5 separate regions of the Homo sapiens genome follow, and all the other regions are linked to region 1. The links come from fine-mapping of genetic effects on gene expression. A gene starts in region 1. Each other region holds a variant in brackets. All regions are shown on one strand. Distances are from middle to middle. Region 1 holds the start of YEATS2 (YEATS domain containing 2). Region 2 overlaps KLHL6 (kelch like family member 6). Region 3 holds the start of KLHL6-AS1 (KLHL6 antisense RNA 1). Region 4 overlaps MCF2L2 (MCF.2 cell line derived transforming sequence-like 2). Region 5 overlaps KLHL6 (kelch like family member 6).

What was found.
Region 2: its variant is fine-mapped to the expression of YEATS2 in lung (TOPMed, PIP above 0.99). The same link has a PIP of 0.9 or more in thyroid.
Region 3: its variant is fine-mapped to the expression of YEATS2 in thyroid (GTEx, PIP above 0.99). The same link has a PIP of 0.9 or more in lung.
Region 4: its variant is fine-mapped to the expression of YEATS2 in CD8 T cells (CEDAR, PIP 0.95).
Region 5: its variant is fine-mapped to the expression of YEATS2 in lung (TOPMed, PIP above 0.99).

Annotation. Positions count from the first base shown.
Region 1 is chr3:183,694,879-183,699,982 of GRCh38, reverse strand. YEATS2 (YEATS domain containing 2) reads right to left here and starts at 2,186. Exons shown (of 31, transcript NM_018023.5): 1 at 1,990-2,186. RefSeq lists a silencer at 1,812-2,281.
Region 2 is chr3:183,505,938-183,511,041 of GRCh38, reverse strand. KLHL6 (kelch like family member 6) reads left to right here. Exons shown (of 7, transcript NM_130446.4): 3 at 2,534-2,983. Among named protein-coding and RNA genes, the nearest start is that of KLHL6-AS1, 40 kb to the left of the region's middle. RefSeq lists an enhancer at 2,015-3,214. The variant A/G (reference allele first, on the strand shown) is at 2,196.
Region 3 is chr3:183,547,248-183,552,351 of GRCh38, reverse strand. All of the region lies in intron 1 of KLHL6 (kelch like family member 6), which reads left to right. It overlaps KLHL6-AS1 (KLHL6 antisense RNA 1), which reads right to left and starts at 3,617. Exons shown (of 2, transcript NR_046687.1): 1 at 3,389-3,617; 2 at 26-299. The variant T/C (reference allele first, on the strand shown) is at 2,698.
Region 4 is chr3:183,389,125-183,394,228 of GRCh38, reverse strand. MCF2L2 (MCF.2 cell line derived transforming sequence-like 2) reads left to right here. Exons shown (of 30, transcript NM_015078.4): 2 at 4,450-4,533. Among named protein-coding and RNA genes, the nearest start is that of MCF2L2, 37 kb to the left of the region's middle. The variant G/A (reference allele first, on the strand shown) is at 2,332.
Region 5 is chr3:183,521,063-183,526,166 of GRCh38, reverse strand. The region is part of intron 2 of KLHL6 (kelch like family member 6); the gene reads left to right. Among named protein-coding and RNA genes, the nearest start is that of KLHL6-AS1, 25 kb to the left of the region's middle. The variant C/T (reference allele first, on the strand shown) is at 3,074.

The sequences.
Region 1 (5,104 bases):
GATGGAAATGGGGCACTTTTTTTCTAATTTGCACTCATTAGTTTCATTTCCTCACATCCGGTTCCCACCTCCCACTTCCAGAACTATGGACAGGAAGACCAATGACCAAAACCAATAACCACCGTGTTGCCAAATTCAATTGACAATCTTAATGAACATCTCAGAAGCCCTGATAAAAGGACCAATTCAACATCTTCCAGAAACACCTCTTTTGGCTGCCATGATACATGCCATTTTGGTAGGAGCTTTTTCTCCTACCTCACTTGCTGTTTCCTGCGTCCTTTCCCCAACCTTCTTCCTCTACCAGACCTAGAGGTATTTGAGTGTCTGCGCCCTTTTCACTTCTCCACACTCTTTCCCCTCAGTGATCTCACACAGCACCATACCTTTGAATATCATCTACGTACAGATCACTCCCAATTTTTTTTTTTTTTAAGAGACGGGGTCCTTCCTGCCTTGTAGCCAAGGCTGGTCTAGAATATCTGGGCTCAAGCGACCCGCCTCGGTCTCTCAAAGTGCTGGGATTTCAGGTGTGAGCACCGCGCCCAGCCACTCCCAGATTTTTATCTCTAGCTCTAGCCTCTCTCCTCCTTGAGTTCCAGCCCTCTACATCCAACTGCCTCAACACACCGACTTCATAACTAACATGCATCTAAAATTTAATACATCTAAAATAGAATTCGTTTTTCCCACCTCAAATTTCTCTCTTCCATTCTTCATCTCAGTAAACAGCACCACCACCTACTCAGTTGCTCAAAACAAAAATCAAAAAAGCAAAGATTCCCACCATTCCCTCACCAATCCAAGTCTTGTTCATTCTACCTTAAAACATTTAAAAATCTGTTTATACTTCCCCATCTCCCTGCCACGGGCCTAGTCCAAGCTACTGCAAAGAGCACAGTAACTGACCTCGTAGGTTCCTCCCCAGCCCTCTTCCTCTACATAGCAGTCGGATCATGCTACTCGCCTTCTCAAAACCTTCAAAGGCTTCCCGGGAAAAACTAAACTCCTTATCAGGGCATCATCTGCCCTATCTTTTAAAGAGTATACACAAACAGGAATATACATCCAAGGGTAGTATCTCTAGATCGTAAAACTGCGGGCATTTTTCTCTGGCTTTGCTTGTATTTTTAAATTTTTCTACGCTGAATACCCTCTACTCATTAAGAAAGGGGAAATGATATTGCTGAATTCTATATAATATTATACCGCATTTTTTACATGTGAGCGAGAAAAGGGAATGGAAAACGTGGGTCAACTCTGTAACTGCTGAATGCTTAGATGAAAATACTAGCCAACATCAAACTAAAAAAAAATGATGTGTCAGGCCTGTAAGATTGCTGATGGCATTTCTCTTCCTCTGGTTTCTATTTCTTAACATAATCACATTCATGATGGAGAAAACCTCATTGTCTTCTGCAGTCTGGCCACAGCCCTTCAAGCCAGCCTTTCCTGCAGGAGTCCTCACTTTCCGAGGCTTCCACTCCGCCCCGCACTGCCCGCAGCTCCGGCGCGTTGGCCCCGGCCCCATCCCTGGACCCCCAAAGCCTCTCTGACCCCTCCCCTCCATCCCAGGGAGGCCCGGTGGGGATGGCGACAGGTTGGAGGGGCATTCCAGGATCCTTTCGGTAAACCCACGACTTTCTGGTGCTGGGGCCAAATCTTGCCTCCAAGGCCAAGAGCTTAACATCCTAAAAGCTCCGGCCGCTGTGGCTCGGGGTCCCGTATCCCCTCAGCGCAGCGCCCCGCTGAAGAGGAAGCCCCCAACTCACGTTCCAATTCCAGGCTCCCGCTTCTGCGGCTCCCCGGCCCGCACCTGGGATCCTCCCTGCCCTCCCCTCGGCCCCGGGGCCTCACCGGGTCCCGCTGCCGCGCTGCCTGCCGATGGGGGAGGGGCGCGCACGTGCCCGCGCCGCCCCCGCCCAAACAATGCCCCGGAGAGCGGGGCGCGCTCCCGGCCGGTCCCTTCCTGCGCCCGCCAACACTCACCCTTTCTCCGGGTCTCCGGCTGCAGCGCGGGCCCCGCCGGCCGCCGCGAGAGAGCACGGCGAGGTGAGAGAGCGGGCGAAGCCCCGCGGAGCTGCCCCGCCACAAGGCCCCAGCGACCCCCGCAACCTGCGGAAGCACACGGCGCGGTGGAGCCCGCCCGGCGCGTTCCGCCCCGCACGTCAGCAGCTGGGCGCGTCGGGGCGCGCGCGGCGGCGCGCGCGGCCTCGGGGCGGAGCTCCCAGGGATGAGGGCGGGGCGGGGCGGGGCGGGGCTGGTCCGGGCTGGGACCCCGGCCCGCGAGGGCACTTCCTGGGCAGTGTGGGCGTCGATTCTTGCAAAGGCACAGTCGTCCATCACTTTCCTGCCCCAGAAGATGGCGAATTTCAACCCCAAGTTTGACAGAATATTCATTCTGCCGGCGTGTATGAGCTTCCCTATTAATCACAATAGTGACTATGATGTTTGTGTGTGCCATCTTTGTGCCAACCCATGTGCTAAGTGCTGGGTATACAAAATAACAGTAGTTATTTCTAGCCCATTTTACAGATGAAGAAACTGAGGCAGGGAAGGCTTGAGACTTATCTCAGTCACACTAGCTAGTGACAATCCAAGTCCAGTTTTCCACCTAAATATCACTTGAGGCCAACATTCTCTTTCGTTGTAACTCTACCACCCTACCCAAGACCCTGTAATCTCTCTGCCCAAGACTATGAATAGCCTCCCAACTGGTCTTGGGGAACTTCTGTTCCCCTTCAATCCCTTCTCACTGTATAACGATTTACTACTGGAGCTGAGTGGTGGGTTTAGGAAGTTCACTTTTTTTTTTATACTTTACATACATGTTACCAAATTTTTAATGTATTTAATGTTTTTATCAACGCATAATAAATATAAGTGGTGTTTTGTTTTTTGTGTTTTTTTTTTTTTTTGAGATAGAGTCTCCCTCTGTTGCCAGGCTGGAGTGCAGTGGCATGATCTTGGCTCACTGCAGCCTCCGCCTCCCGGGTTCAAGCGATTCTCCTGCCTCAGCCTCCCAAGTAGCTGGGATTACAAGGCGCGCGCCACCACGCCTGGCTGATTTTTGTATTTTTAGTAGAGACAGGGTTTCACCATGTTGGCCAGGCTGCTCTCGAACTCCTGACCTTAGGTGATCCACCCGCCTCAGCCTCCCAAAGTGCTGGGATTACAGGCGTGAACCACCACCCCCAGGCTAATTTTGGTTTTTTTAGACAGGTCTCACTATCACCACAGCTAGTCTCACACTTCCGGGCTCGAGAGATCCTCCTGGCTGGGCACGGTGGCTCATGCCTGTAATCCCAGCACTTTGGGAGGCTGAGGCGGGCGGATCACCTGAGGTCAGGAGTTCAAGACCAACCTGGCCAACATGGTGAAACCCCGTCTCTACTAAAAATACAAAAATTAGCCAGGTGTATTTGGGCATGCCTGTAATCCTAACTACTTGGGAAGCTGAGGCAGGACAGTCACTTGAACTCGGGAGGTGGAGGTTGCAGTGAGCCATTGCACTCCAACATGGGCAACAAAAGTGAAACTCCATCTCAAAAAAAAAAAAAACTAAGAAAGGCTTCCTTGAACCTTAAGCTAAGACTCAAGAGATAATAGGAACTGGGGAGATAAACAAATTTCATGGAGAAGGGGGTGAGGTCACAGGTCAGGATGAGTGTGTTGGTGTTCCCCTACTCTTAGGGTTTAACAGTGAGGTGGAAAGCATAGAAATACCCAGATAAGTGCCAAGAAAGCTAGAAGCTGACTTCCCTTGGTGTAGCTTGGAAGGCTGTCCAAGTCTGTGAGAAGGCTCACACAGTAGGGCTTGGGAGCAGGCCATGGCGTTGGGAGGAGTCTGCAATAGTGCTGCTGGAGCGCTGCAGCTTGCACATTTAGGTATGTCAGAATTCCAGACTTCTCTTGTTGCTCCCTGCCTGGCATGCAGAAAGTAGCATGGTTAAGAGCCATGGACAGACCAATAGGCACTGTGCCAGGGGGCAGGTTTCCTAAAGCAGAGGCCTTGTGGTGGGCTGATGGCCAGGGAATGGCTACAGAACGTAGCTAAGACCCCAAGGATAGGCAGTACTGAAGATACCAGTGGAGCTGAAGCACCCCTAAGTCAGCTGGTGAGAGGAGCGGGGATGGAGGAGTGGGGATGAAAGATGAGACATCAAACTCTGAAGGTGCTAAAGCAACAGGTCATGAGCTTGCCAACCAACCACCTCAGCAGCTGATGCCTGCAGGGCAGTGGAGACCAGAAGTCACCAGAGACATAGCAGCAGAGGCCAGTGAGAACCCAGGCTATAGCTTGAAATCCCGCACACAGATCTCCCCTCCCACCGCTGCCTTGAGGCTTCCCCTGTATCCTGTAGGCCGCCTTGGGAAGTCAAGGGGAAGAAGGGTAAAGTTCTGATAAGACTACAACTTTGAACTGTTTACCCAAATATTCACCAAAATGAAACTTTTTTTTTTTCTTTTGAGACTGAGTCTTGCTCTATTGCCCAGGCTGGAGTGCAGTGGTATGATCTTGGCTCACTGCAACCTCCGCCTCCTGGGTTTAAGTGATTCTCCTGCCTCACCCTCCCGAGTAGCTGGGACTACAGGCGCGTGCCACCATGCCCGGCTAATTTTCTGTATTTTTAGTAGAGACGGGGTTTCACTGCGTTAGCCAGAATGGTCTCGATCTCCTCATCTCGTAATCTGCCCGCCTCAGCCTCCCAAAGTGCTGGGATTACAGGCGTGAGACACCACACCCAGCCTATTTGCCCTTTTAAAAACATCACTTGCAGCTGGGCGCGGTGGCTCGCGCCTGTAATCCCAGCATTTTGGGAGGCCAAGGTGGGTGGATCACCTGAGGTCGGGAGTTCGAAACCAGCCTGGCCAACATGGTGAAACCCCATCTCTACTAAAAAAAAAAAAATGCAAAAATTAGCTGGGCGTGGTGACACATGTCTGTAATCCCAGCTACTCTGGAGGCTTGAACCTGGGAGGTGGAGGTTGCAGTGAGCCGAGATCATGCCACTGCTCTCCAGCCTAGGTGACAGAGTGAGACTCCGTCTCAAAAAAAAAAAAAATCATTTGCCCCAATGAGTAGGTGGGGAATGACTGAAGA
Region 2 (5,104 bases), 190 kb after region 1:
GTCCCCTGGGCCCACTGTTCTTTCTCTGTACTTTGCCTCTGTGTCTTATTTCTTTTCTCAGTCTCTCGTCCCACCTGACGAGAAATACCCACAGGTGTAGAGGGGCTGGCCCCCTTCAGCATTGACCCTCGGAGAAATGCTTTATTTATTTATTTATTTATTTATTTTGAGATGGAGTTTTGCTCTTGTTGCCCGGGCTAGAGTGCAATGACACGATATCAGCTAACCGCAACCTCCGCCTCCCAGGTTCAAGCATTCTCCTGCTGCAGCCTCCTGAGTAGCTGGGATTACAGGCATGTGCCACCACGCCTGACTAATTTTGTATTTTTAGTAGAGACGGGGTATCTCCATGTTGGTCAGGCTGGTCTCCAACTCCTGATCTCAGGTGATCTGCATGCCTCGGCCTCCCAAAGTGCTGGGATTACAGGCGTGAGCCACCGCGCCCGGCCTAAAAAATGCTTTTTAAACTGACAATCCTATGTGATCTGACACAGAAAGATAATATTTTGCAATAGAGGTTGATCCAAAAAGTCAGGGATGTGTTCCCTGGAATGCTCTGGAGTAAAGTCCAGAGCCTAGGTCACCTTGGTCCACTCTTAGAACCAGTCCTGCCCCACTATCAACCTTCAGGCTCGATAGCCCCACTCCCCACAGCTCCTGCCAACCCTCCCCAGTCAGGTCTGTCCTGTCCCTACTCTCACCAGGACCTGCCTTCAGAAGGCCTCCCCCACCCCCACCAGGTCTTGCCCCCTCAGCCTCCCCTTTCCTCTCCCCCCATTAATCGATCAACCCATGGGCACCAAGAACTTGACCCTATAAGGAGTCCAGTAGACGGGGAAGGGAGCTAGGAGGTTGAAATTGTTCAAAGCTAAGCTCCAGAGAACAACAAATAAGAATGAACCAATGCATTTGAGACATGTCATCTGTAAAATGGATATTACAAAATATAATGGATATAACAGTGCTTTGTCATCTGTAAAGTGCCCTACAAGCACAAGGGACTTGAATTTTTATGAGGATGGTGATAACTTAAAAGTGGGACCTGAGAGCCAATCAATAATTTTACAAATTGATTTTTTAATGACAAAAGCGGTACGTATTCATTTTAAAGGATATATAAATAAATAAAACATATAAATAAACAAAAACAGAAAAATTCTCATAGTCTTCTTAGAGTGTCATACCTTCTATTATTTATATAGTATATTCCCTGTCCATCCCATGAGACCTGTTTCTGTGGGAGAACTATGGTTCCCTTGATGACAAATTTTGCCATGTGACTTACTCTGGACGGTTTTGTGTAAATGGATATAGCATGCGCCCCCTCTGAGCAGAAGCTTTAAAAGCCTCTGTGTGGTTCTGCCATCTTTTTCCCCTTCTGTCATGGGACCAGCATGTCTCAGGTAAGGGCTTTCCATCTTCCTGGCCCCTGGAATGAAGAGCCCCGTGAAGAACACATAGTGGGTAAGAGGAACATTTATTGTAAGCCCCTGAGACGTGAGGGTTGTTTGCTGCTGCAGCAGAATTTGCCTTAAGATACCTGATAACCCAAAGAGATAACAACCATTAATATTTTGACCTACATCCTTTCATCTTCTTTCTATGACTTTATTCTGTGTATGTTTTCTTTATAAAAATAAGGTCACAATGTACATATGATTTGTGACGTGCTTTTCTCATTTTATCTGCAAATATTTCACTTATAGCTCTAAAAAATAAGGATTCTTCTTCAACATAAACATGAAACCATTATGGCACCTAAAATGAATCATAATTGTTTCATTAGCACCAAATATTAGTCATTGTAAACATTTCTCCAACTTTAAAAAATATATATTGTTTAAATCAGGAATCCAAATAAGATCCATACTTTGCAATTGGTCAATGTGTCTTAAATCTCTGTTTATCTTTAGGTTCTCCCTCTCCTTCTCTCTCTCTTTTATCCCCTTGTAATGTATTTGTTGAAGAAACTGAACAAGTTGTTCAGTAGAGTTTTCCACAATCTGGATTTTGCTGATCATGTTCCCATGACGTCTTTAGCAGGTTCCTCTTTCCCTGTATTTCCTGTAAATTGCTGAGTAAATGTAGAGGCTTAATCAGATCCAATGAACAGATTTTAAAACTCAATACATTATGAACATTTTCTATTTCATTTAATATTTTCTACAACATGTGTTTTAAGTATCTACAGAGCT[A/G]TCGACTGTATGAATGAATTATATGTATTTAGCTAGTCCCGTAAGTGTCTCATTGTTTTAAGTCGACTGTATGAATGAATTATATGTATTTAGCTCCTCCCGTAAGTATCTCATTGTTTTGTCGACTGTATGAATGAATTATATGTATTTAGCTCGTCCAGTAAGTATCTCATTGTTTTAAGTCTACTGTATGAATGAATTATATGTATTTAGCTCATCCTGTACTGTTGGACATTTAGGTTGTTTCCAATTTTTGGCTAATACACATAACTCACTGATAAACCTCCTTGTGGACTCACCATTTTCTGGCCTCCTTTCCACCCTTTCTATTTCATCAGTTCCTGCGGATGGTGGATGCCTGTGCCAGCTTCCTCACTGAAGCCTTGAACCCAGAAAACTGCGTTGGAATACTGAGGCTGGCTGACACACACTCGCTGGACAGTCTAAAGAAGCAGGTTCAGAGTTACATCATTCAAAACTTTGTGCAGATTCTGAACTCTGAGGAGTTTCTTGACCTGCCCGTGGACACTCTGCACCACATCTTGAAGAGTGATGACCTTTACGTGACCGAGGAGGCTCAGGTGTTTGAGACCGTGATGAGCTGGGTCCGGCACAAGCCATCAGAACGACTCTGCTTACTCCCCTATGTCCTCGAGAACGTGCGCTTACCGCTTCTGGACCCGTGGTACTTTGTGGAGACGGTGGAAGCAGATCCTCTCATCAGGCAGTGCCCAGAGGTCTTCCCGCTGCTCCAGGAAGCCAGGATGTACCACCTTTCTGGCAATGAGGTGAGTAGAAGATAAGAGGTGCTATATTTAACCAGCGAAGTAAGGAGTTAGCTAGGGGCTCACAGAGATGCAAGCAAAGCGGATTCAAAAATCCTTAGGGCATTAAGGAGAAAACACTGCCCTGTTCATTGCTGAGTCGGTCAGTTCCAGAAGCCCTGATTCCTGATCTATGAGGCCGATCCCACGTGTTCAGACAGTTACTGAGCGCGTTAGGTGAGATGTAGAAATCACCCAGCACCATGCCTGGCCCGTGCTTCCTCTTCCCAGTTGTGGAAGGGTGGGAGGTTGGGGGTCACACTGCACGCACAAACAAGAATGTGCCCTGGGCCGGGCCTGGTGGCTCACACCTGTAATCCCAGCAGTTTGGGAGGCCCAGGGCGGGTGGATCACGAGGTCAAGAGATCCAGACCATCCTGGCCAACATGGTGAAACCCTGTCTCTACTTAAAAATACAAAAAAATTAGGTGGGCATGGTGGCATGCACCTGTAGTCTCAGCTACTCGGGAGGCTGAGGCAGGAAGATCACTTGAACCCGGGAGGCAGAGGTTGTAGTGAGCCGAGATCACGCCACTGCACTCCAGCCTGGGCAACAGAGGGAGACTCTGTCTCAAAAAGCAAAGCAAAACAAAACAAACAAAAAACAAAAAAAACAAGAACGTGCCCTGTCTAGTCACTATTCCATGGGGGTGCTGCTCTTCCTTGCCCACTCTGGTGAAATCTTGTGTCTCTTGTATATACTCTGACATCACTTTGATTTAGACTCTCACCATCTGAATTTCTGGAAATTTCTCAAAACTCATCTTCCTCCCCCAAGTCTGGCCTCCCTCCAATTTATTCACCAGCTGAAAGATCTGAAACTCAAGTCTGATCATCTTGCTCCTGGGCTTGCCTTCTTCATTGGCTCCCCATCACTTTCAGAATAAAGCCCATACTTCCTGCCTACGTTCCCAGAGCCTGGTCTTGCATCATTAATCTCCTGCCTGCTTCTCTAGTGTCCTCTCCAACCTCCCACTTCTGCTCTAGTCCTAATGCACAGCTTGTGGTTCCCCAAAGTGGATGTGCTTTTTCTGCCTCCAGGTCAATCTGAATGTTGTTCAAATGCTTTTCTCTTCTTCATCTAGCTGACTTCTACTCCTACTTCAAAACTCAGTCCAAGCATCACTTTCTCCAGAGACTTCTCCTTTTATTTATTTATTTATTTATTTATTTATTTATTTATTTATTTATTTTTGAGAGGAGGTCTTGCTCTGTTGCCCAGGCTGGAGTACAGTGGTGCAATCATAGCTCACTGCAGCCTCGACCTCCCAGGCTTAAGTGATCCTCCCACCTCAGCCATCCAAGTAGCTGGGAGTACAGGCATGTGCTACCACACCCGGCTAATTTTTAAATATTTTGTAGAGACAAGGTCTCACTATGTTGCCCAGGCTGGTCTTGAACTCCTGAGCTTAAGTGATCTTCTCATCTCAGCCTCCCAAAGTGCTAGGGTTACAGGTGTGAGCCACCACACCCAGCCACTCTCCGTGTTCTCATAGCACTTGGTGCATTGCTCCATCACAGCACCAACTGCTGCATGGCAATGATTTGAATTTATTATATGTAAATATCTCTAGACTGGGAGCTTGTTATAGTAGGAAATATGTCTTATTGCACTTTACATCTCTAGATCTTAGAAGAGAGTCCTGAGACTGCTATATAGTGAATGAGTAATTAGTAAATGCTTGTTGAATGATTAAATGGGTACTACGAACGGTGAATAAACATGTCATTTGGATCTACCTGGTTCTCCTTAACAATTCCTGAAGAAGATTTTTCTTCAGAACTTTATAAAGACAAGAACAAATTTAGTGGAGAGGAAGTAATGATATAGGGACAGTTTGTTAACAGTTTGTACACATGAACACCCATACATATATCTCACTATGCAGTGGTTCTGGGATTAGCTACCAGGCTTTCTTCATTAGGCCATTGGTAGAAGCCTTAGCCAAACGTGGCCCAGGAATTGTCTGTCTGAGGTTCTTTTAGAGTTTCTCCCTTTTTCTGTGTGTTCTTTTCTAGTTTTTTTGTTGTCCTTAGATCCACTGTTCATTCATTCACTCTGCAAACATACCCTTAAATGTTTAG
Region 3 (5,104 bases), 150 kb after region 1:
CACTGAGAAAATAATTACTTTCCACTAAGGGACTGACAATAGTTTATTAAACAGTCCCCTACGGACAGACATCTGGACTATTTCTAATCCACATTTTGCTATTACAAACAATGTTGTAATGAATAACCTGAAACATGAGTTTTTTTCATATGCATTTCTTGAAGGGGGTTTGCTGAGTCAAATGCATCTGCAGTCTTAGCGGTTATTGCAACTTCTCTTTCATTGGGGTTGAATCATGTTGCGTTCCCCCACGGCATCACCAAAAGAGGGTGTCATCCAACCGCTGAAGTTTTACCAATCTGATAAATGAGAAAGAATATCTCAATTTAGCTTTAATTTGCATTTTTCTTATTTTTAGTAAGATCAAACATCTCTTCGTATGTTTAAGGGGCATCTGCAGTTCTTTTTTTGTTGAACTGTCTCTTCACTGCCTTTCTGTTTTTCATGTATTTTTTTAAAATTAAATTTTATTTTTTATTAAAGATATGCAAATAGTAAACAAAGCGTTAAATAGTATTTAAAGGCTTATAATGAAAAAACAAAAATTCCTATTTCCTCCTCCACCCTGTCTCATGCGCCAAAGGCTACCACTTTCAACTTCTATTTGTTTCTTCTGGCACTAGCTCTATATTTCTGCAAAATACACTTATACTGCTCTTTCTTGATTTTTCAGTGTTAGACATCATTCACTGATTTCAAATAAGGATTTAGTATCCTTACCTAACCTCTTACCATAAGCTTTCCTTCCCTGTAATCTTTCAACATAATGTTATCACAACAAGAGTTTACATTATTATGTTCACGAAAACCTTGTTCTCTGTTGAGCCAAATTACTCAATGATCACGTTTCTTTTCTTGTAAACCTTTTGTCTTTCCTGAAGTTATTAATTCACTCATTTTTTCATTTGCTTTGTTTTGGGGTGTCTTTTGCTCACAGGCTCACAAAAATCTTTCATATGGTCCAATGCATCAAACAATCTACCAGTTCCATTTCCTCAGAATCCTCCTGCCTTGCATCATGTTACACATGTTCCCTGGATTTGCACGCTGGCTGGGATTCACCTGCTTCTCCATCATTCCCCGGGACTGTCTGCTATGTTGAATGGAGCCTTCTCCCTTCAACCCCTATCTTTCTCTTCCCTGGTTTACCATCTTACCCTGATAAGCACATTCTCCAATAACTTCCTAAGAAAGAGTGCATGGGAAGTAATTTTTTTTTTTTTTTTTTTCTGAGACAGAGTCTTGCTCTGTCGCCCAGGCTGGAGTGCAGTGGCAGTATCTCCGCTCATTGCAAGCTCCGCCTCCTGGGTTCATGCCATTCTCCTGCCTCAGCCTCCCTAGTGGCTGGGACTACAGGCGCCCGCCACCACGCCCAGCTAATTTTTTTTTATTTTTAGTACAGACAGGATTTCACCATGTTAGCCAGGATAGTTTCAATCTCCTGACCTCGTGATCCACCCACCTTGGCCTCCCAAAGTGCTGGGATTACAGGCGTGAGCCACTGCGCCCAGCCCATAGGAAGTAAATTTTTAAGGCCTCGCATATATTTTTGTTTTGTTTTGAGACAGGGTCTTGGTCTGTTGCCCAGGCTGGAGTGCAGCAGCTTGATCATGGCTCACTGCAGCCTCCCTGGGCTCAAGCAATTCTTCCACCTCAGCCCCCCAAGTAGCTGGGACCACAGGATGTACCACCATGCCCGGCTAATTTTTGTATTTTTTTAGTAGAGATAGGGTTTCACCATGTTGGCCAGGCTGGTCTGGAACTCCTGACCTCAGGTGATCCACCCACCTCCGCCTCCCAAATTGCTGGGATTACAGCTGTGAGCCACCCACCACGCCTGGCCTTTCTTTGATTTTAAATAACATTTTGATATTTCACAATGATGTGCCTTGGAGGGGTGTGTGTGTGCGTGCGTGTGTGTGTGTGTATGTGTGTTTTACTCCAACCATTATGCTATGCATTTGATGAACCCTTTTAATCTGGAGAGTCACATCCTTTAATCCTGAACATTTCCTCATATTACTGCCTGGTAATTACATGGTTACTGTTTTCCTTGTTTACTATTTCTGGATCACTTATTCAGTAGATGTGGACTTCTAGAACAGTCTCTAGCTTTCTCATCTTCTCTCTCCTGTTGTCCATCCTCTTATCTTTCTGTTTTACTTTCTGGAAGATTTTTCTCAATTTTATCTTCCAACCTGTTGAGAATCTCAGTTTTTAACTTCCAAGACTTTTTTCTTGTTTTATGTATGAAGCTTCCTTTTTATAACATCCTGTTCTTGTTTTGTATAGGTCATATTTTCACTTAATCTCTTTGAGGTTTATATTTTTTAAAAAACCACTCTTCTGTTTTTGTTTGTTTTTTACTGTTTGTTTTCACTGTATTTTTCTCTTTGTTTTTGTCTCTTTTATTCTATTTTATGTATGTATTTATTTATTTCCTAGAGACAAGGTCTCCCTATGTTGCCCAGATAGTTTCAAACTCCTGGGCTCAAGGGATCCTCCTGACCCGGCCTCCCAAAGTGCTAGGATTACAAGCATGAGCCACCACACCTGGCCTCTGTCTTTTATTTTAGAGGCTATACTTAAATATCTGGTAGTCTTTGGATATCTGTTCCTATTTAAGAGTCAAGCACTAACATGGTGAAACCCCATCTCTACTAAAAATACAAAAAATTAGCTGGGCGTGGTGGCACA[T/C]GCCTGTAGTCCCAGCTACTCGGGAGGCTGAAGCAGGAGAATTGCTTGAATCTGGGAGGCGGAGGTTGCAGTGAGCCAAGATCATGCCACTGCACTCCAGCCGGGGCAACAGAGCAAGACTCAGGTGTCCCGACCTGACGAGTGCCATTCAAGTTGGATTTAGCCATGAAATAAGTTACAAAAAACTTTACATTTATCAGCACTTTGGGAATTTTGAAACTACAGATAAGGGATTATAGATATATAATGCTGAAATATTTACTATCATATTGGTTCTGATCCACAATATTGGAAAATATTAAAAGTGGAAAATATAGGGCCTGACCCTGGTGTTACAATCATTGGCTTCACTTGAGTTCTCAAGTGTACCCACTGTGGCAGCAGCAATCCTCAACACATTTGCTGTTAGCCAGATTTTTAATACAGACCTACATGGCCTTAACTCATTCTTGTTTTTCTTGGCACTTATTCTCTTTTTTAAAATTTGTTTAAATTTTACTTTAAGTTCTGGGATACATGTGCAGAATGCGCGGGTTTGTTACATAGGTATACACGTGCCATGGTGGTTTGCTGCACCTATCAACCCATCATCTAGGTTTTAGGCCCTGAATGCATTAAGTATTTTTCCTAATGCTCTCCCTCCCCTTGTCCCCCACCCGCCGACAGGCCACGGGTTGTGTTGTTCCCCTACCTGTGTCCATGTGTTCTCATTGTTCAACTCCCACTTATGAGTGAGAACATGCGGTGTTTGGTTTTCTGTTGCTGTGTTAGTTTGCTGAGAATGATGGTTTCCAGCTTCATCCATGTCCCTGCAAAGGACATGAACTCATTCCTTTTTATGGCTGCACAGTATTCCATGGTGTATATGTTCTTGGCACTTATTCTATCACCTGGGCTTTCTGACTCTTTTCTGACATCTTACCCCATTATGGAGACAAAGCTCAGGATTACAACATCTACATGTGGCTTAAGAGTAGTCTCTTGCCCCACTTTTCTGCCATGCAGTAATTGGTTAATATGTAATAATGATTAACAAGTGCATAGATTGTGCTCACAATAACCTTCCCATTCCTGGCCTTATGCCTGATTTTTGTAGCTGGCGGGTAAAGTCCTCTCAACATAGCCTCAAGGAACCAGACCTAGAGACTGCGGTACAAGACAGGAGTGAGACAGGAATCCAGACAAGGATTCCAGGCAGCAGCATCAACAAAGGAGATTGCTAATGACTCAGCCTCAGCCTGGAAGCTTTTCTATGCATGAAGGAAGGGCCAGTCATGAGACAGGGCAGAGAAAAGCCTGATAACCCCTCCCCTCATCACTAGGACTCCCCTCCCTCTGCCAACCCTGGGAATCACAGCAGGGCTGCCCTCACAGGTCACTGTCACTTACAGAGTGTGCCATATTTTGCAGTGAGCTGGGCTTCCCAAATGGTGAGAACCAGTTTCTGGTTCTAGCCACAGTGAGGTCCCATATATTTTCAGAGCGCACTGTCTTTTCACCTTGCACACCCTGACCCTGCTTCCTTGTCTCTTTTTTAACCCTTTGATCCAGACTGATGTCCTAAGGCATGCTGGGTCCTTGCTGCTATGGGGGTCTGTCAGCTCAGCCCCCAGACATAAACTGGAATGAATGTTCCAACAGTATCCTGCCTGTGCATGTGTGTATGAGCACAAGGAGGCTCTGATTTTTACATTTCCTCCTCATTTTCAGCTTATGTAGCCTACACTAGCAAAAGAGTCTTGGGGAGCTGAGGGGTCATAGGAAATGACCTGTTAGCCACATTTCTGTTCTCTGTGAAGAGGCCTGTTTTCAGTTTAGACATCATGGGGAAACCACTCTTCCCATCAAAGTGAGCTCCCCCAAGGATGAAATGGACACCATGCTATCTACTTGATATTATGAAGACTGAATGAAATAAAAAGAATCCAGCAAAGTGCCTGAAAAAATGTAGGCCGTCCATATTCCAAACTGGGAAAAAATGCTTAATGCAAAGATTACCACGTCACGTATAAAAACAAAATACTGGAAGCAACCTAAATGTCCACAGTGAGAGAATGATTTTCATATTATGCCTCTGTTGAAATTGGTAGCAATATAATAAATAGTCATTATGAAAAGCATGGAGCACCGTAGGAAAAATATTATAATGAAAACAGGGGGCAAAGCAAGATGCAAAATTGCATGTAAACTATGGAAAGATATGCATGTGAGAAAAGGTAGACAAATAACACCAAAATGAAAACTGTTAACATTATCAGAAAGCCCCATAATCCCTTACCCAAAAATCTGGGAGCCAGATGTGCTTTGCCATTCAGAATTCTTTGGATATTAGCATATCTTAAATGTTATATAGCACCTCCAGCGCTCTTTAGTCTAATGCATTAGTACTTCAGCAGTGAGTATACAA
Region 4 (5,104 bases), 310 kb after region 1:
TGGTTCATGGCTTGTTACGCGTTGTTGCAAACTCAGTTGTTGAGATCTAGTTTGATCAACTGGCAGATCCTTCTGTTCCTTCTGTCCCCTTGAGTCTCTGGGCAAAGCAGTAATGTCACAGGGTCTGCCAAACTTGGGGCAGCTGTTCTCTGCTCCAGACCATACTTTTTCCCCCTTAACCTAGGTATTTATTTATTTAGTTCTTTTTCTTTTTTTCCCCTCAGATCATACTTGAATCTTTTAAATCATAGTGTGACAGAAATTTCAGAAGAGCAAGAGTGGGAGGCTAAGGGTCTCACTGCCCTTTATCCTTTAGCAGTTGCAGCAGTCAGACAGTGTTGAGATATCATCAGCCCTGTTTCCTGCCCTCTGTTGTAAGGAGGATGGCTCCAGTCATTAGCAAAGGTCCTGGCTCCAGAGCGCATGCTGCTCTCTCAGCCTGGGAAGTGGGCAACACAGGGATATTGCTTGCTGCCTGCAGTGGAATTCCCATGGGACATGCTGGACTATTATTTCATCGCGTAAGAGTCTGGAGGTTGTGTTTGGCCTTTGATACCGTCTGTATTTCTGGAACTGTGGGCTCAGGGTAAAATAGAGTCACACTTCTGTGTACTTATCAAGGATAGAAAAGAGACAAGTTTTTCCCTAGTATATTTGTTTGCCCAGGATAGAAATTGTGTTGAAATTGAATTATCACTTCCCTTTGCCTTGTGTGGGTAACAAAGAGACAAGTTTCTGCCAGGCGCAATGGCTCACACCTGTAATCCCAGCACTTTGGGAGGCCGAGGTGGGTGGATCACCTGAGGTCGGAAGTTGGAGACCAGCCTGACCAACATGGAGAAACCCTGTCCCTACTGAAAATACAAAATTAGCCGGGCGTGGTGGCAGGTGCCTGTAATCCCAGCTACTCAGGAGGCTGAGGCAGGAGAATCGCTTGAACCCGGGAGGTGGAGGTTGCAGTGAGCCGAGATCATGCCATTGCACTCCAGCCTGGGCAACAAGAGCGAAACTCCACCTTAAAAAAAAAAAAAAAAAAGAGACAAGTTTCTCCCTAATCTGTGCATGCCAAAAATGGCAAAGAAGCAGGAAGCCTCCACAGACCTCTGTGAGGCCAGGGCAGGTGTGTAACAGGCACCAGCGCCTTGGTGGGTCATGGTTCTGCTCACCTGTTCCTGGGAGAAGGAAAAACCCTTTTACTGGTGAGAACACTGAGACTCAGAGTGTACTTGCCCTGATCACCTATCTAGAAGGTGGCAGAAAGGGCCTTTGCATGCAAGCCTGTCTGAATCTGAAGCAGATCCTTTCCCATTGCAGTGGAGGTGTTCTTTCAGAACCAAAGACTTCTTGTACTTCCTCCCCTACCTACCTATACAGGAGTGGGAGGCAGGGCCTGCCAGCCGCAGGGTGATCTTTGTGTCTCTTGGTGTAGAGCATAAGTGTACTTTACTGGGGGCAGAACAGAGCATGCCCTATTCCAACAGGACCACAAGTGTCAGGCAACTGAAGGCTGGGTGTATCTGCAGTCATCTCCATGCCGAGTCAGAGGATGAGTCTGGGAAAGCCTCATGATCTGTTGCAGCTGGCCAGGTTGGGTCATGTGGCTCCTTTGCTAGGAAGACTTCAAGGATAACCATGTCACTTCCTGGCTGGAGAGCAAGCACTCTCAGCAAAACCTGCACTTAAAGCAAAGCAGCTCATTGCTATTCTTAGAAAAACAAATTATGAATTTTAGTCCTGTTCATTTGATAGCCACAGGAGGCTAGCGAGAAAGGTCTCTTGTCGGGGGCTGGGGGGATGGGCAAACCTCAGATTCCCATGACACTAGTCAGCCTCTCAGGGTTGCAGGAGCCTTTGCAACTCAAGGCCAAGGGTCTGGGAACTCTATCACGCGTGGCCGAGGTTTGCCCTCTTAGCGTCAGGTGATCCGGGCTCTACAGTTATTTGTTGTGTAACCACAGGCAAGTTTAGGATCTCTCTGGGTCTCCATGTTGTCATTTGAAAAATGAGATGGCGTGGGGATCGTTGACTTCGCTAATGTCTGCTCCCCTTTCAGATCTTACATCTTTAAAATGTTTAATTTAAAGCACACCTCAAATATTGACATGTAAGAACAATAAATTACACCTTATGATTTTTGTTTTTCTCTCGGTTCATCATCTCTGAAATATGCTTGCTTGGCCAGGCGTGGTGGTTTGTGCCTCTAATTCTAGCACTTTGGGAGCCCAAGGCAGGAGGACTGCTTGAGCACAGGAGTTCAAGGCTGCAGTGAGCTATGATTATGCCACTGCACTCTAGTCTGTGTGACAGAGCAAGATCCTATATCTTAAAAAA[G/A]AGAAATCAAAAAAATGCTCAGGTATGAACAAATAATACTGAAGCTCTATTTCTGAGTATGCCACTGTCCTAGACCACTGGGAGATTGTACTCTGAAAACTCTTTAATTACATAACTTCCGTTTCTGCTGAAATTCTCTATGTTGTTGTCTACTTGTGTTTTACATTTTATTACAGAAAATTTGAAACGTAGCAAGAGAATTATGTAACAAACCCCTGTGGACCCATCAACCAGCTTCAATAATTATCCACATTTTGTCAGCATGTTTCATCTACCCCCCACTTCCACCCCATGCATAGTTTTAGTGAAGGGGAGTGCTGGAGTATTTGTCAGCAAATCTCAGACTTCATATCATTTCACTGTTAAATGCTTCAATTTGTGTTTCTAACAGAGAAGGCCCCCTTTTTATAAAATGTGACTACCATGCCGTTATTACACCCACCGAATGAACAGTGACGAAGGAGTTCTTTGAACTTTTAGTGAATTCAGGGTGGAAGTGGTATTGGGATGAAGAAGCTCTGGTCTAGATTTATCCCCTTTACCCAAAACAATGGGGGAATTCATTGAAGGGGATCTTGGGGCTTAAGCTGGCACTTGGCCCACCCCTTACAAGACTTTCAGAAAAAAACAAAAAAAGGCTTTTAGAAAGCAAATTTGGGAAAGGCCTGTCTGTTCAGAACAAGGGATATAACTAGCATTTGCTCAGCACCCTCTATATACATCTCCATATATATTATCTCCTTTAACCTCCACACCAAAAAGCTGAGAGTAGACCAAGACTCAGAGAGGACCTTCCCAAATATTACCTTCTGATTGGTCAACACTAGAATATCATAATGTTACCATGACCCCATAATGAATCAGTAGGAAATTCCCACCTAGCATCAGAGCACAGGTTGTTTGGTTCATGCCTTAATCTAACTAGATGTTTAACTCCTGTAGAAACAATAACCAGTTCATTCATTTTTTGTTATTGTTTTTGTTTTGTTTTGTTTTGTTTTGAGACAGGGTCTCCATCTGTTGTCCAGGCTGGAGTGCAGTGGCACAGTCATGGCTAACGACAGCCTCAAACTCCTAGACTCAAGAGATTCTCCTGCCTCAGCCTCCCAAGTAGCTGGGACCGCAGGCATACATCACCATGCTTGGCTAATTTTTAAATTTTTTGTGGAGACAAGATCTTACTCTGTTGACCAGGCTGGTCTCAAACTTCTGGCCTCAAATAGTCCTTCCCCCTCGGCCTCAGTACCCAGCCACCAGTTTATTCTTTAAGATTCCCTGGGAAATAATTGAATGAAGATAATATCTTAGGCAGAGATAACATGAAAATGCCTTCCTCTCTTCAGCCTAGGTTGAAAGATTCCAGTTGGTCCTCCCCTCTCTCTAATTCCTTTTCCCCAAATGGAAATGAGGGCAAATCACAGGGCTTATAAGTCACTTTCTAGGGTTAGAGGAACTTTGTAGATTTGTGCTTGAAAGGATTGGATTTTTGCATTGGAAACCTATATAACTTATTATTCAGTTAGGAGAATCTTTAAATAGAAAAATGAAAAAGTGCCTTCTTATATACATTTAGCAGTAGGAAGAGGCCCCTTAAAGTATTCTGGAAGGGGGAAAAAAAGGAATGGAGATAAGTAGGGGAGGAAGGAAGTGAGGTAGGGAGGAAAATAAAAATTAAAGAACCCTCATGAATCCCAGATTGATTTTATGACCTGTTTTGAAAGGAGCTCTAGTAACTTATGTTGTTTGTGTTTAAAATGTCCTTCTGCAGACCCAAAGGTGTAGGCAAATACCTGCCTTCGTAATGAGGTCATCCAGCAGGTTTTCTGTGAAGCTGCTGGAGCTTAAACTTCAGGGTTCTTTCCTTGTATTGGTCCCTCCCAAAGCCTTGGTAGGGGCTCTAGAAATGTGTTCCACGCTCAGATGCATAAGCTCCAAAGCACACAAATCCAGATACAGCCCTGGATCTCAGCAATCAAGTTCTCAAGGGAATGTTGTGCCAGCACCGTCTCTTGATAAGTCCCAGATTTCCCAATAGTACAACTTGCCTTTGTTTCTTTTTAATTTCTTCTTGTAATTTGCACATGTTTAACTAACCCACTTTGTATTTCATTTGTGCAGATGAAATTATGCAGCAGGAAGTCAGACCCCTGATGGCGGTGGAGATAATAGAACAACTTCACAGACAATTTGCCATTCTTTCAGGTAAGGGGCACATTCATTTGCATTTCCAGATTTTGATGGGGGGGTCTTGATGGGAAGGTCCAGCCTCTTGAACCTTGAGGAATGTTATACTCAAATCTCACTCACCCCTTAGGCTTCACCCGGGACTAGAACAGGCTGAGGCCTATCCTGCCAGAAGAGGGTGGGATCTCATACATATTATTCCCTTTGCTGTTTGGTGCAATCTGATCTTTCCCAAAGGAGCACATTTCTTTGTGGTTGTAAATAACAGAGCTGAAAAGATTTTGAGGAAAGAAAAAGAGACAACTACTGACATCAGCTGCCACCATGATGTTCTTCCAATGTTCCTTTGGATGTTCTTCCAAGATTCAGCCTTACAAAGGTCTTAGTTCTAAGGGTTCCCGAGCGTTGCTGAGGTTGTTTGTTCTCTGGGAGAATTGTCTTTTACTCTTAGCTCATTTAAGGGATTTCCATCAAGCATTTGATTGGGAATGAAGAGAGGCTGTTCTGACTAAAAGTCTAGCATTTTTTGAGCCTAGACACAACCCTGAAAGGTTGTCATGACTTGAATACTGTTCTTTCTTATTCGCTC
Region 5 (5,104 bases), 170 kb after region 1:
GCTAATTTTTTTTGTATTTTTAGTAGAGAGGGGGTTTCCCCATGTTGGCCAGGCTGGTCTCGAACTCCCGACCTCAGGTGATCCGCCCGCCTCGGCCTCCCAAAGTGCTGGGATTACAGGCATGAGCCACCGCACCCGGCAAAAAATTATTTATTCTTTTGAATGGATAAAACATACTCCCATTCCAAATTCAGAACCCCGGAAGGGAAGCAGTGACACTGCCTGTTTGCAGTGTCCTGCTGTTCTTCATATTCCATGCATATAGCAGTCTCTATATGCATATCACTCCCACTCAGGCTTCCATTTTTTCTAACACAACGTAGGCACACTATACATCCTGTTTCGCATCTTACTAGTTTTACTTCACATTCTATTTTGGGCATTGCCGCAGGTCTGCGTGTGGAAACTACCTTGTTCTTCTCAATGGCAGCATGATATTGTTGGGGTCACATTAGATGTGAAACATGTCCAGTTATTGCTAATGATCTCTTATAAGGCAGAGTGGCAGAGTAGAAAGAACACGGGCAAGCAGACCTAGGTTTAAACCCTGGGTCAGTCACTTATTTGCTATGTGGCTGTGGACCAGTTACTTAAATTTTCTGAGATTCAGATTTTTCATTTGTAAAATTAGGCTGATAAACACCCCACCTTCCAGGGAAAGCTATTATGAAGTTAGATGAGATGATGTTTTCAAAGTACAGCATATTTCCAGGAATGGACGTGTCTTCCCATCAGTTGTGTGGTTTTTACTTTACTTTGGATAGTTTGTGCCTTGGATAAATGGGGCTGACATTGAGCTATGAGAACATTTCCCTAAGGTATTCCTAAATTTTCCCCCCCGGGTTAGGATTGTAAGAGACCATGTTTAAAAGTGTGTGTGTGTGTGTGTGTGTGTGTTTTTTTTTTAGAGAGTCTCACTCTGTTGCCCAGGCTGGAGTGCAGTGGTGCAATCTCGGCTCACTGCAACCTCCGCCTCCCGGGTTCAAGTGATTCTCCTGCCTCAGACTCCCGAGTAGCTGGGATTACAGGTGTGCACCACCATGCCTGGCTAATTTTTGTATTTTTAGTAGAGACGGGGTTTCACCATGTTGGTCAGGCTGGTCTTGAACTCCTGACCTTGTGATCCACCTGCCTTGGCCTCCCAAAGTGCTGGGATTACAGGTGTGAACCACCATGCCCAGCCAAAAGTTTTTTTTATCATGTTCATACGATACATGATTAGAATGATGAAATGAATCAGTGCTTTATTTTAATTAACTCAGGGTTATAGGTAGAGAAAAGTGTGCCAGTGATGGCATTTTATCTGGTCCTTTTACAACATCTGCAGAAGTCAGTACCACCTCTGTGGGACTGAAATGAACAGGAATCAGATTATCTCAGTGCTCCCCGCCCCACCCAGTAATAAACGCTTCTTAATTTTCACCATTGGTGTGACTCAGCTGCCCTTAGTGTCTTCCTGTTACCCACCAATTGCTTCTCTCCCAGAATTTCCTGGTGCAGGAAGAGACAATCCGATGACCAAGCCAATCAGCTCTATCACTGTTTGGGAAGAGCTTTTCCTACCAGGCCAGGCAACGTCATGAGCTGCTGGCCAGTTTACAGCGTGGGTGCCTTGGGTTTACAGACCAATCAGCGATGCCATGAAACAGGACAGTTTCTTTTAGGAGGAAACTTTGGGTGTGGCAGGTACTGATTGATCTGCCCACTAGAAGAACTTTGCAATCATCTGGCCGTAATGCATTGGCCAATCATGAGGAGAAACACATTTTCCCCAACTAGTTTTTGGAAAGGTAAAAGTAAGAGAAGCATCTAAGAGGAAAGGCCTAAGGGACCTGTTCTCACATGCGGTGGGATCTTTGAAATGAATGCCACCCAGTAGGGGCTCTAGAGAAGCCAAAGGTCTCCCTTTCCTTAACTGGACCTTCAGGCTTCTGAGTCGTAGGTAAGCAAGCCAGCCCCAAACTATGGACCTGGGACAATGGCTGTAAGGACTTGGCAAAATTTTTCCATCTTGAAGGAGAATGATTTCTCAATCAGGGCACTGCCATGTTGTTTGAGAAGTTTGCCATGTTTGTTACTTTCATTTTTATTATTAAAAACTCATGAGGCCGGGCACAGTGGCTCACACCTGTAATCTCAGCACTTTGGGAGGCTGAGGCGGGTGCATCACCTGATGTCAGGAGTTCCAGACCAGCCTGGCCAACATGATGAAACCCCGTCTCTATTAAACATACAAAAAATTAGCCAGGTGTGGTGGTGGGCGCCTGTAATCCCAGCTACTCAGGAGGCTGAGGCAGGAGAATCTCTTGAACCCGGAAGGGGGAGGTTGCAGTGAGCTGAGATTGCGCCACTGCGCTCCAGCCTGGGCGACAGAGTGAAACTCCATTTAAAACAAAACAAAACAAAACACCTCATGAAATGTAGCCAAATACCACCTGTACCCCAAAAACTTATGGAAAAAAAACAAACAACAACTCATGGGAAAAAAAACCAACTCATGAAAGAGTAAGGGATTGGGAGCTTATCTGCAGGCAGCAAGAAGATGTGAGGTCAGGGAGACCATTCTCACCCTGCATTTGGTCTGGGATGTAAGGATCCCTACGGTACATAACAGTTGGTTAGAAGCAGCAACTTAGGAGAAGAAAACCAGGCTAAGTCCCGTGGCCAAAGTGAGGAAAAAGGGGGATGCTGGAGTGGGAGCTTGGTCATCTGGCCTGGGCCTGAGAAGAGCCCAGGAGGGGCTCCCACAGAACCCTCTGGGGCAGTGACATGGTGGCAGTTAGAGGAGACATTGGTGAAGGTCCAGTGTTGCTTATTTCCCTAGGATTGCCTTTGTTTACAATAGGATGAATGCGCATGAGGCTAATGCAGATGAGACAGCCACGTGGTCAGTGTCTGACTTGATGGCCTGGGTTGGCTCCTTGGCTTATGCAATGCCTGGGACATAGCGGGCATGCTATGAATATTGGTGGAATACATGAATATGTGAATAAATGCACTAATGAGTGTGTCACTCTTGTTCATTACTAGCTGGATGTAAGGACTTCTCAAAAACTGCTCAAGAAGCCAGGCG[C/T]GGTGGCTCACGCCTGTAATCCCAGCACTTTGGGAGGCTGAGGCAGGCGGATCACGGGGTCAGGAGATCGAGACCATGCTGGCCAACATGGTGAAACCCCGTCTCTACTAAAAATAGAAAAATTAGCTGGGCCTGGTGGCGTGCGCCTGTAGTCCCAGCTACTCAGAAGGGAATCGATTGAACCTAGGAGGCGGAAGTTACAGTGAGCCGAGATCGCACCACTGCACTCCAGCCTCGTGACAGAGTGAGACTCCATCTCAAAACAAAAACCAAACAAACAAACAAACAAACAAAAAACTGCCCAAGACTCCAACAGAAATTACTTGGTCTCCTTCCAGGCGACACTAAGAAGCCCAATCCTGGCTCTTGGAAATGGTGTGGGCCAAGAAAGGAGGAAATATTTCACAGGCTAATACTAATAATTGCTTCATTTTATAGGTGCCTGATGAAGTGCCAGGCACCTACTATGATATACTATGTACACACATGAATTTCTGTTGTCATGGACAGAGACTCACAGATTATATCTATTCAACACCATAGAAGCCAGTCAATCTAGGCAAGAAAACCAGCTGGATTATTTCCTTGCTATCATCTACATAAAATCAGCCTGTTGACTATTTGATGCACTCCCTCTCACACTTAAATTTGGTCAACCAGTGTTGCTGTGTGGCTACTGTAAGCATTAAGCAATCAGGGTTAGTCTACTGGGTCCACATGACAGCCACAGTGGCCCTTTTCAGAGCATTCACCAGAGTCTTTTTTTTTGAGACAGAGTCTTGCTCTGTTGCCCAGGCTGGAGTGCAGTGGCGCCATCTCGGCTCACCGCAACCTCTGCCTCCTGGGTTCAAGCGATTCTCCTGCCTCAGCCTCCTGAGTAGCTGGGATTACAGGAATGTGCCACCACACCCAGCTAATTTTTGCATTTTTATTAGAGACGGGGTTTCACCATGTTGGCCAGGCTGGTCTCGAACTCCTGACCTCAGGTGATCCACCTGGCTTGGCCTCCCAAAGTGCTGGGATTACAGGCCTGAGCCACCGTGCCCAGCCAGTAGCAGCTATTTTGCCTGAACTACATTGTTTAAAGTCATGTAAGTCTAGCCAGGCACGGTGGCTCACGCCTGTAATCCCAGCACTTTGGGAGGTGGAGGCGGGCGGATCACCTGAGGTCAGGAGTTCGAGACCAGCCTAACTAACATGGTGAAACCCCTGTCTCTACTAAAAATACAAAAATTAGCCAGGTGTAGTGGCGGGCGTCTGTACTTCCGGCTACTTGGGAGGCTGAGGTGGGAGAATCGCTTGAACCCGGGAGGCAGAGGTTGCAGTGAGCTGAGATCACACCATTGCACTCCAGCCTGGACGACAGAGTGAGACTCCATCTCAAAAAAAAAAAAAAAAAAATCAGGTAGGTCTTTTTACCCTCAATGTATAGATGAGGGGCATAAAATTCAGCAATGTTAAGGAAACGCTAAAGTCTCCACAGCTAGTAAGAGGGGAGCCTGGATTTGACTCCTGTGGTCCTGTGCGTAGCCTGTGTGTTCTCCAGTGCACATGCTCTGTCCATGCCTCAGAGTGACGCCTGAAACAAGCCATCACCCTGAAGGCAGCTAGGGCCTCCGGGGAGGGTGTCCTCAGGGAGGACTGCCCAGTGCAATGTTCTGAGAACCAGCAGTGCTCTGTGCGAGTGTGTCGGGGGCAAGACTGGCCCAGCACCCTCTGGGGAACCTTGGATGCCTGGGGCCACCTGTAGGGGAAAGAAAGAGATCAGACTGTTACTGTGTATATGTGGAATGAAGAAGACATAAGAAACTCCATTTTGTTCTGTACTACGAAAAATTCTTCTGCCTTGAGATGCTGTTAATCTGTAACCCCAGCCCCAATCCTGTGCCCGCAGAAACATGTGCTGTGTTGACTCAAGGTTTAATGGATTTAGGGCTGTGCAGGAGGTGCTTTGTTAAAAATGTGTTTGCAGGCAGTATGCTTGGTAAAAGTCATCGCCATTCTCCAGTCTCGAGAGTACCCAGGGACAGA